Linked DNA regions of Homo sapiens. The protein of the gene in region 1 interacts with the protein of each later gene in a pairwise test. Each region holds a gene or a part of one and is shown on either strand. Other genes may lie near its edges.

The links. Proteins that work in one complex are often made in the same cells at the same time.
Region 2: the proteins of KEL (region 1) and SERPINH1 interact in binary tests that used the Homo sapiens proteins (3 or more experiments, as listed by UniProt).

Annotation. Positions count from the first base shown.
Region 1 is NC_000007.14:142,952,364-142,955,863, forward strand, and holds part of KEL (kell blood group glycoprotein), read right to left. Parts: intron 2,165-3,500; coding exon 2,102-2,164; intron 2,010-2,101; coding exon 1,821-2,009; intron 1,594-1,820; coding exon 1,445-1,593; intron 276-1,444; coding exon 146-275; intron 1-145. UniProt on the Homo sapiens protein: Zinc endopeptidase with endothelin-3-converting enzyme activity. Cleaves EDN1, EDN2 and EDN3, with a marked preference for EDN3.
Region 2 is NC_000011.10:75,568,753-75,572,252, reverse strand, and holds part of SERPINH1 (serpin H1 isoform 1 precursor), read right to left. Parts: coding exon 3,424-3,500; intron 3,315-3,423; coding exon 3,082-3,314; intron 473-3,081; coding exon 170-472; 3' UTR 1-169.

The DNA of each region.
Region 1 (3,500 bases):
TGCCTGCTTCTATGGAAAGCCAAGACATGGAGGGGCATCTACCATCACGGCCCCCTCCCTGAGAGAGAGATGCCGACATTTACCCCTCAAAAGAGTAGATACTCCTTTCGAGTATCTGGGCAAATACACCCGCTCCTCTCCTCACCATGGGTGGTTGCTCTGTCAGTTCCCGCAGTTTCTGGCTGAGCTTTCTGCGTGCCTCCTGGAATTGACTGTCCAGGGCTGGAGAAAGGGTCACCACCAGCCCTAAGATCATGTGGCTCTGCAGAAAGTCCCTATGGAGACAAAAGAGACCCACACATATACCCCAGGAATCTGGGGATGCTTCAAGAAGAGCCTCTCCTTGTGTAAGTCACCTTGATACTCGTGAAGGCAGCTCCTTCTCCTCTGTATTAATAAGTGTTTTAACATGCACCCAAGTCAAAAAGAGCTTTTCATGATGTAGGTTGGGGTGGGATCTAGCTCCTTAGTAAAAGAAACTAGATGAAGAGGCAGCCTTCAAAGTCACAGGGAAAGAAAGTTCTGGGCTAGATGGAGTCTGGACTCATGTCATGAAACAGATTCTGCTTCCACAGTCAAGATATCTCTGGTTATCCTCAGATGTATCTCATAAGCATAAGTAAGCTGGTCTCTGTGACTGCTCTCTCCTCCACCAGCAATGCTCCTGCCAGGGCTGCATTGCACCCTTATGTAAGCCTGCTCACTGCCATGTGAATGGGCAGCTACCTCCCTCAAAAAGGATTTCCAGATGCTGCTGCCACCATGAAGAAGGCCCTTAGGTCCAAGCCCCTGGAAGAAAGCCACTGCTTTCAGGTGGTAGCCACCCAGGTATCAGGGGAGGCAGAGAGCCCAACAAAGAGCCACTCTTTCATGTCCCCAACCCCAACACCCCCTTGATTTCCTGACACCAGCAGAAATGCTCTTAGACATTGTTTCCCATAAGAGCTCCAGCATCTTCACACCACACCTGAGGAATGGCCCCTCCTCTTCCTTTCTTCCCCTAAGCATCCCCAGCCTTCACCATGTTCATCTCCTCATCTCATGTGCCTCCTCCTCCTGCCCACAGTCCTCAGCTGCTAAAAAGACATACATACACTTAACTGTCTTCTGTGTCTGGGTCTTCCAGCATCTTCTACAGCTCAGAGGCTCTTGACTGGCTGGTGTTCTACTCTCAGGAAACCCCGTGTCTTGGCTGACCCTGCGTTCCTCATGTCGTGTGTATCCTCCCTTACTCGTGCTCCCAAGACACATCCTTCTTGATCCCTCCATCCTCTCTGTGCCACCCACCCCACGCTTCTCTGCCCGCACAGGTGGCAGGTTCCTCTTATCCTCCTGGGAGGCCCTTACCAGCCTGCCTTCCCCAAGGTTTCCTTTGCCCCCAAGATCTACGGTGCTCAGGCTCTCCTCCATTTCCATGATCTCCCCAATCCCACCTGCGGCGAACCTCTGCTTTAGCAGCATCTCCTCCACCAGTTGTGACATGTTTTTCAAATATTCCACGTCATGGACCACGAGGGACTGAGAAGGGCTCAGGGACATCGGTGTGAATGTCGCTTGCAAGCAGGACAACCAGTCGATGGCGGGGGCCATTTCCTTAGAGGAGGGACACAAAGCTGAGGGGGAAAAGGAAAAGAGAAGGAAGGGGAAAGGGCTTCCCCTTGGGTGTGAGAAAAAGAAGAGAACAGGCTAACTGGGGGAGGGGATGGAGTCAGAGACAGAATGAAAAGGTATTAAGGGCACTAGGAGGAAGAAGGAAAGGAGGTAATGTTTGAGAGGAAGATCCCCATGCCCACAGTCTTCTGGCCCCCAGTTCCAGGCACCTTGAGCTGGTCGATAGTGACCATCTGGAAGAGCTTGCCCTGTGCCCGCCGCTGCTCCAGGGGCCTCAGAAACTGGAACAGCCGTGAAGTGATGGAGATTGACAAGGAAGAGTGTTCTTGCACCTTGCTTGGGTCTCCTCCCAGCAAGGTTCCCAGCTGATTCAGGTAAGTCAGGTATTCCCGAAAGATCTGGAGGAAGGAAATGTCAGTCACAGGTGCCAGAGGTCCCTGCTTTTCTCCTGGCCTCAGAGGGCAGGGCCTTTGTCCATGTGCCATCTTACCTGGGCATAGATCTTCTGTTCTTGATCTTGCTTGAGGGGAACATCAAACTCTGGCTGGTCTATCTGGGCACAAGAGAGACTGGAGAGAAGCAGGGAGCATGGCGGATGGAGAGGGCAGGTGTGGGGAGGTGGGGAATATACCATGGGAGATGGCCTTGGGAGATGGACACAAAGATTGGACAGAAGAGAAGCAAGAGTACAAAGAAAGGGAGGGATTAAGGGTTGAGGGGCATGAGAAGAAGAGTCCAGATGTGAAAATGGGAAGAGATGGTGAGTATTACAACCAGTGTGGGTGTGCCCAGCAAGGCAGAAGCATGATAATCAGCATCTTAAAAGGAGCTATTCCTTGTCTCAGGAACAGGGCCAGGGTGAGTGAGGTGAGGAACCTGTCCCAGGTACAAAATCTAAGAGGTACCAAAAACTCAGTAATCAAACTGCAACCTAACTTAGGAGTATATTCTTGCAACAGGTAGCTCCATCTCAGCCAGCCATACCAGCTGATCTTCAGGCAACCACAGGCTGTCAAGTGATCAGACCATGCCCATTAAAGACAATTGCTAAGCTGTAACCAATCAAGCTGTTTCTGGGTGTCACTTCCTCTTTCTGTAAATACTGCCTGCCTGCATTGTTGGGTGGAGCTCTCTGAACCTCTACTGCTTCAGGATGCTGCCCAATTCATAAATCAGTCTTTGCTCAAATAAACTCTTTTTTAAAAAAACTCAGTAATCAAGATAAATAATTAACATTTTAAAAAATCAAAATTACTACCAAAAATGTATGATAAATAAAATCTCAAAACTTTGCTTATCATGGACTTTTTTTCCCCAAAAAAACATACTTTTAGTCAATTTTGAAAAGAATCATGATGTGTTCAAGAAAAGTCCTCAATGTATTTTTGATTCATTTTGAATAAAAAAATTAGTATTTTCAAAAAGATTCACACAGAATTTTGTCCCATTTTTTGGGAAAAAAAGCATAATCTTTTTTCAAAAAAATTCATAATGAAGAAAAGTTTGATATTTTGTTCCATCATGTATTGTTGCATTGATTTTGATTTTTTAGGAATATTTAATAAAATACTATTTATCATGATACTGAGTTTTGGGGACCTTCTTAAATTAGCACCCCAGGTAAGCACCATGTATATTTCACCTTAGTCTGGCCCTGATGAACCCTTGTTTCTATTCTGAAGATCTTTGCTTCTACTCTTTCCCTTTTCTTCTCCAATTTCAATATCCCACTCTTATCTTGAGCCATATACTTTTCCTTCTGTCTCGAAAAAAACTTTCACTTGACCCTTTTGCTACATTGTATGTCCACAGTTCAAAGAACAAAAAAGCATCTATGCCCATTGTTTCCACTTTCTTATCTTCCTCCTAAGCTCTGTGCAGTCTGTGTC
Region 2 (3,500 bases), on another chromosome or scaffold:
TCTAGCTGGGAAGGTCCGCTCAGGCACACGGGAACCCCGGTCTGTTTTTCCACCCCCACCCCATGGAGTATCCAAGGCTGGTACCTCACCTCCCCCCCAACCCCAATAGCACCCATGTGTCTCAGGAGCCTTTGGATGCCTCCTGCCATCCTGTGTGCACCCTGAGGCCCTATAACTCGTCTCGCATCTTGTCACCCTTAGGCCGGACCAGGCGCCCAATGAATAGCAGGGAGCCGCTTTGGGTGTCCCGCACTAGGAAGATGAAGGGGTGGTCGGCGTAGAACAGCTTGGGGCTGCGCAGCTCCTCGCGCCCGTAGATGTCCTGGTCAAAGGGGTTGCCATCTGTGTCCAACTCAAAGGCGGTGGCGTGGAACACGCTGGCCAGGTACAGGTCCTTCTTGCCTGACATGCGTGACAAGTCGGCCTTGTTCTTGTCAATGGCCTCAGTCAGGCCCAGCCCAGCCAGGTGTTTCTGTGGGAACAAGGAGGTGTGCCAGGTGAGGCCATGGCTGCCAGGCTCCTCCACCCTCAAACCCTCCACCCCATACTACCCTGACCGCTCCTCAGAGAGGAGAGAACCACCCCCTGGTCACCTTCTGTATGCCAGGCATGGCACTGGCACTTCAAATCACAGCTTTCTCAATTCTCACTGCAACCCTACAAGGGCTTCTAATTGCCACTTCACAGATGAGGAAGCTGAGACTCAGAAAAACAAGTGAGAACGTATCCCGGCACTGCCCAGCTGCAGTTCAGGGACAGACAGCATGGGCACCACCCAGGAGCTTATCTCAAATGCTCATGTCCTGACCCCAGCCCAGACCCCCTGAATCAGAATCTCTGGGAGTGGGCATGGATTCCTTTTCACAAACTCCCCAAGTGCTTTCTTAGCATACTCAAGTTTGAGAAAGACTGATCTAAGGACAACTATGTCCACATCACTCTGGGGCTGAAAACCTGTCCAGAGTGATAGGATGCCTGGAATTTGCTTCAGAATAATCAGATGCAGGGGGGAATTAGTGGGTATAAATGGATCACTATTGGCCATGAGCTGATAATGCTTGAAGCTGGGCGACAGACACTTGAGGTTTCATTACACTAATCTACTTTTATTTTTCCAATGTTCGATAGTAAAAAGTTAAAACACATATACACACATACACACACACACACACACAAACATCTTTCCATGGCCCTGCACAGCTCTTGGAAGCCAACCATAAGCTCTTTAACATATGACCTGTGCCTACGTGGCAGCCTCCAGCCACATCCCTTGGCACGCCCCACCCCACTCTCCAGACAGCCTCACAGAACAGCTTATATCCTGGATGGCCATCCTGTCTCCCATTAGGGCTCTTTAGAAACCACTTCTTTCAGGAAGCCTTCCCGAGCCCACAGGATGAGTGGTGCCTCCCTGGACCTTCCTGTTATCAGTCTGGTGCTGCCTGTCTCTCCCACCTGGCTTGGAGCTCCCTGAGGGCGGGGCCCATGTCCAGCGCTCTCCCTGGCTCTCAATGCAGGAGAGAGGACAGTAAATGGCTGTGGGCTGAGTGAATGGCAGCATCCGGGTCCAGGATTCTTCAGGATAACATCCACCTCCCTGGCAAGGCCACACAGGAACTAGGCCTGAGGTCCTGAGAGTCAGGGGGTCATGAGACAGGCATTCGAGGTAGGCCCAGCTCTTCCCACCCGGATGACCTTGCACACGTCATCCGCCTCAAATTTCCTAACTCAATCTACCCCATATCTGGGGGGTGGGGTCTCCACTGAGGGTTCCAGGAAGACACCAGAGGAACAAGGGGAGAAGGGGGTGGGACAACAGCCACTGGAGAAGGGGCTGGGGAAGGATCAGGGCCAGGACCAGGAGAGAGACAGTGACCCCTCTCCAGGAACTCCCAGGGTCTACAGCACAGACCAGTACGAGCTCCACTTGTCCCTGGTTTGGAGCCTAAGCCCCACTTCATCTCCAGCTTTATCTCTCCAAGCTCTCTGGGCAGCAAGTCTGGATCGATTCTGCAGGTGAGAACCATTTGTGGCATCCAAGGAAAGAATGACACGAAAGTTTCCTTTTTTGGGTAAGTCAAAAATATCTCTCGATTGACAAAAAGGCGGCTATTATGTTTTTACCTTGAGGTCTAATTGCAACTCCACCACTTATGAGCCTGGGGAACCTTAGGGAGTCATTGCTTCTCTCTGAGCCTCTGCCCACTACCCAGGGTGGTTGCAAGGGAGAATCTTGAGAATGTGTGTTAAGTTTCTGGCCATCCTAGATGACCCATAGCTACCAGTCTGATTATTGGATGGTAGATAATCCTCTAGCTTAAACAATCTATAACTGGGGGCACTTCAGACCTCAGAGGCAGTGCAGTGACCGAGGGTTAGCTCTGGTGCAAGATGTCTGAATTACTAGCTGTGTGACTTTGCACAGGTTACTTAACCTTTCTGAGCCTCAGTTTCCTCATCTCTAAGATGAAACTTATAGTCCTACCTAATAAAGTCGTTTTGAGGATTAAAAGAGTTTAATACGTATAAAGGCTGGGCACGGTGGCTCACACCTGTAATCCCAGCACTTTGGGAGGCTGAGGCAGGAGGATCACTTGATGTCAGGAGTTTGAGACCAGCCTGGCCAACATGGTGAAATCCCGTCTCTATTAAAAATACAAAAATTAGCTGGGGGTGGTGGCACATGCCTGTAATCCCAGCTACTCGGGAGGCTGAGGCAGGAGAATCGCTTGAACCCAGGAAGTGGAGGTTGCAGTGAGTCGAGATGGCACCATTGCACTCCAGCCTGGGCAACAGAGTGAGACTCCATCTCAAAAAAAAAATAATAATAATACATATAAAGTGCTTAGAAGAACGCCTAGCATACAGGAATGTTCCGTTATATTTAGCTGCTGGTATTATCATCATCTTCCCAAGGGCATGGCCCACACCTCCTGCCCCAGCTTCCCCCATCACAGAGCCCAGCACTGCCTGGACATCCAGGGGGTCTTGGGACAGACCTGCTGAATTGGTGAGTGGGTCCCCCAAGCACCTCCCCCTGGCTCCAAGGCCTGCAGGCCCCTAGGCTGGGCCACCCCTTACCTGCAGGTCATGGGTCACCTCCACCACACCCTTGGGCAAGGAGATGGCAACAGCCTTCTTCTGCATCTTCCCCATCCAGATCTTCAGCTGCTCTTTGGTTAGCAGCTTTTCAAGGCGCTCGAGAGGCTCCACGTGATGGGGCATGAGGATGATGAGGCTGGAGAGCTTGTGGGCCAGGGGCATCTCCACGATTTGCAGCTTTTCCTTCTCGTCGTCGTAGTAGTTGTAGAGGCCTGGGAGAGGAGCGGAAAGGACACTGGGCACCCTGTGTGCAGGGGTGGGTCAGACCAACTACCCTTGGACCCCCACCCACCTTGACACCCTGCTCCTCACAGCACCTACCTGTCCGGTGCATCATCATGACACCCACGGTATAGGACCGAGTCACCATGAAGCCACGGTTGTCCACCATCTTGTGG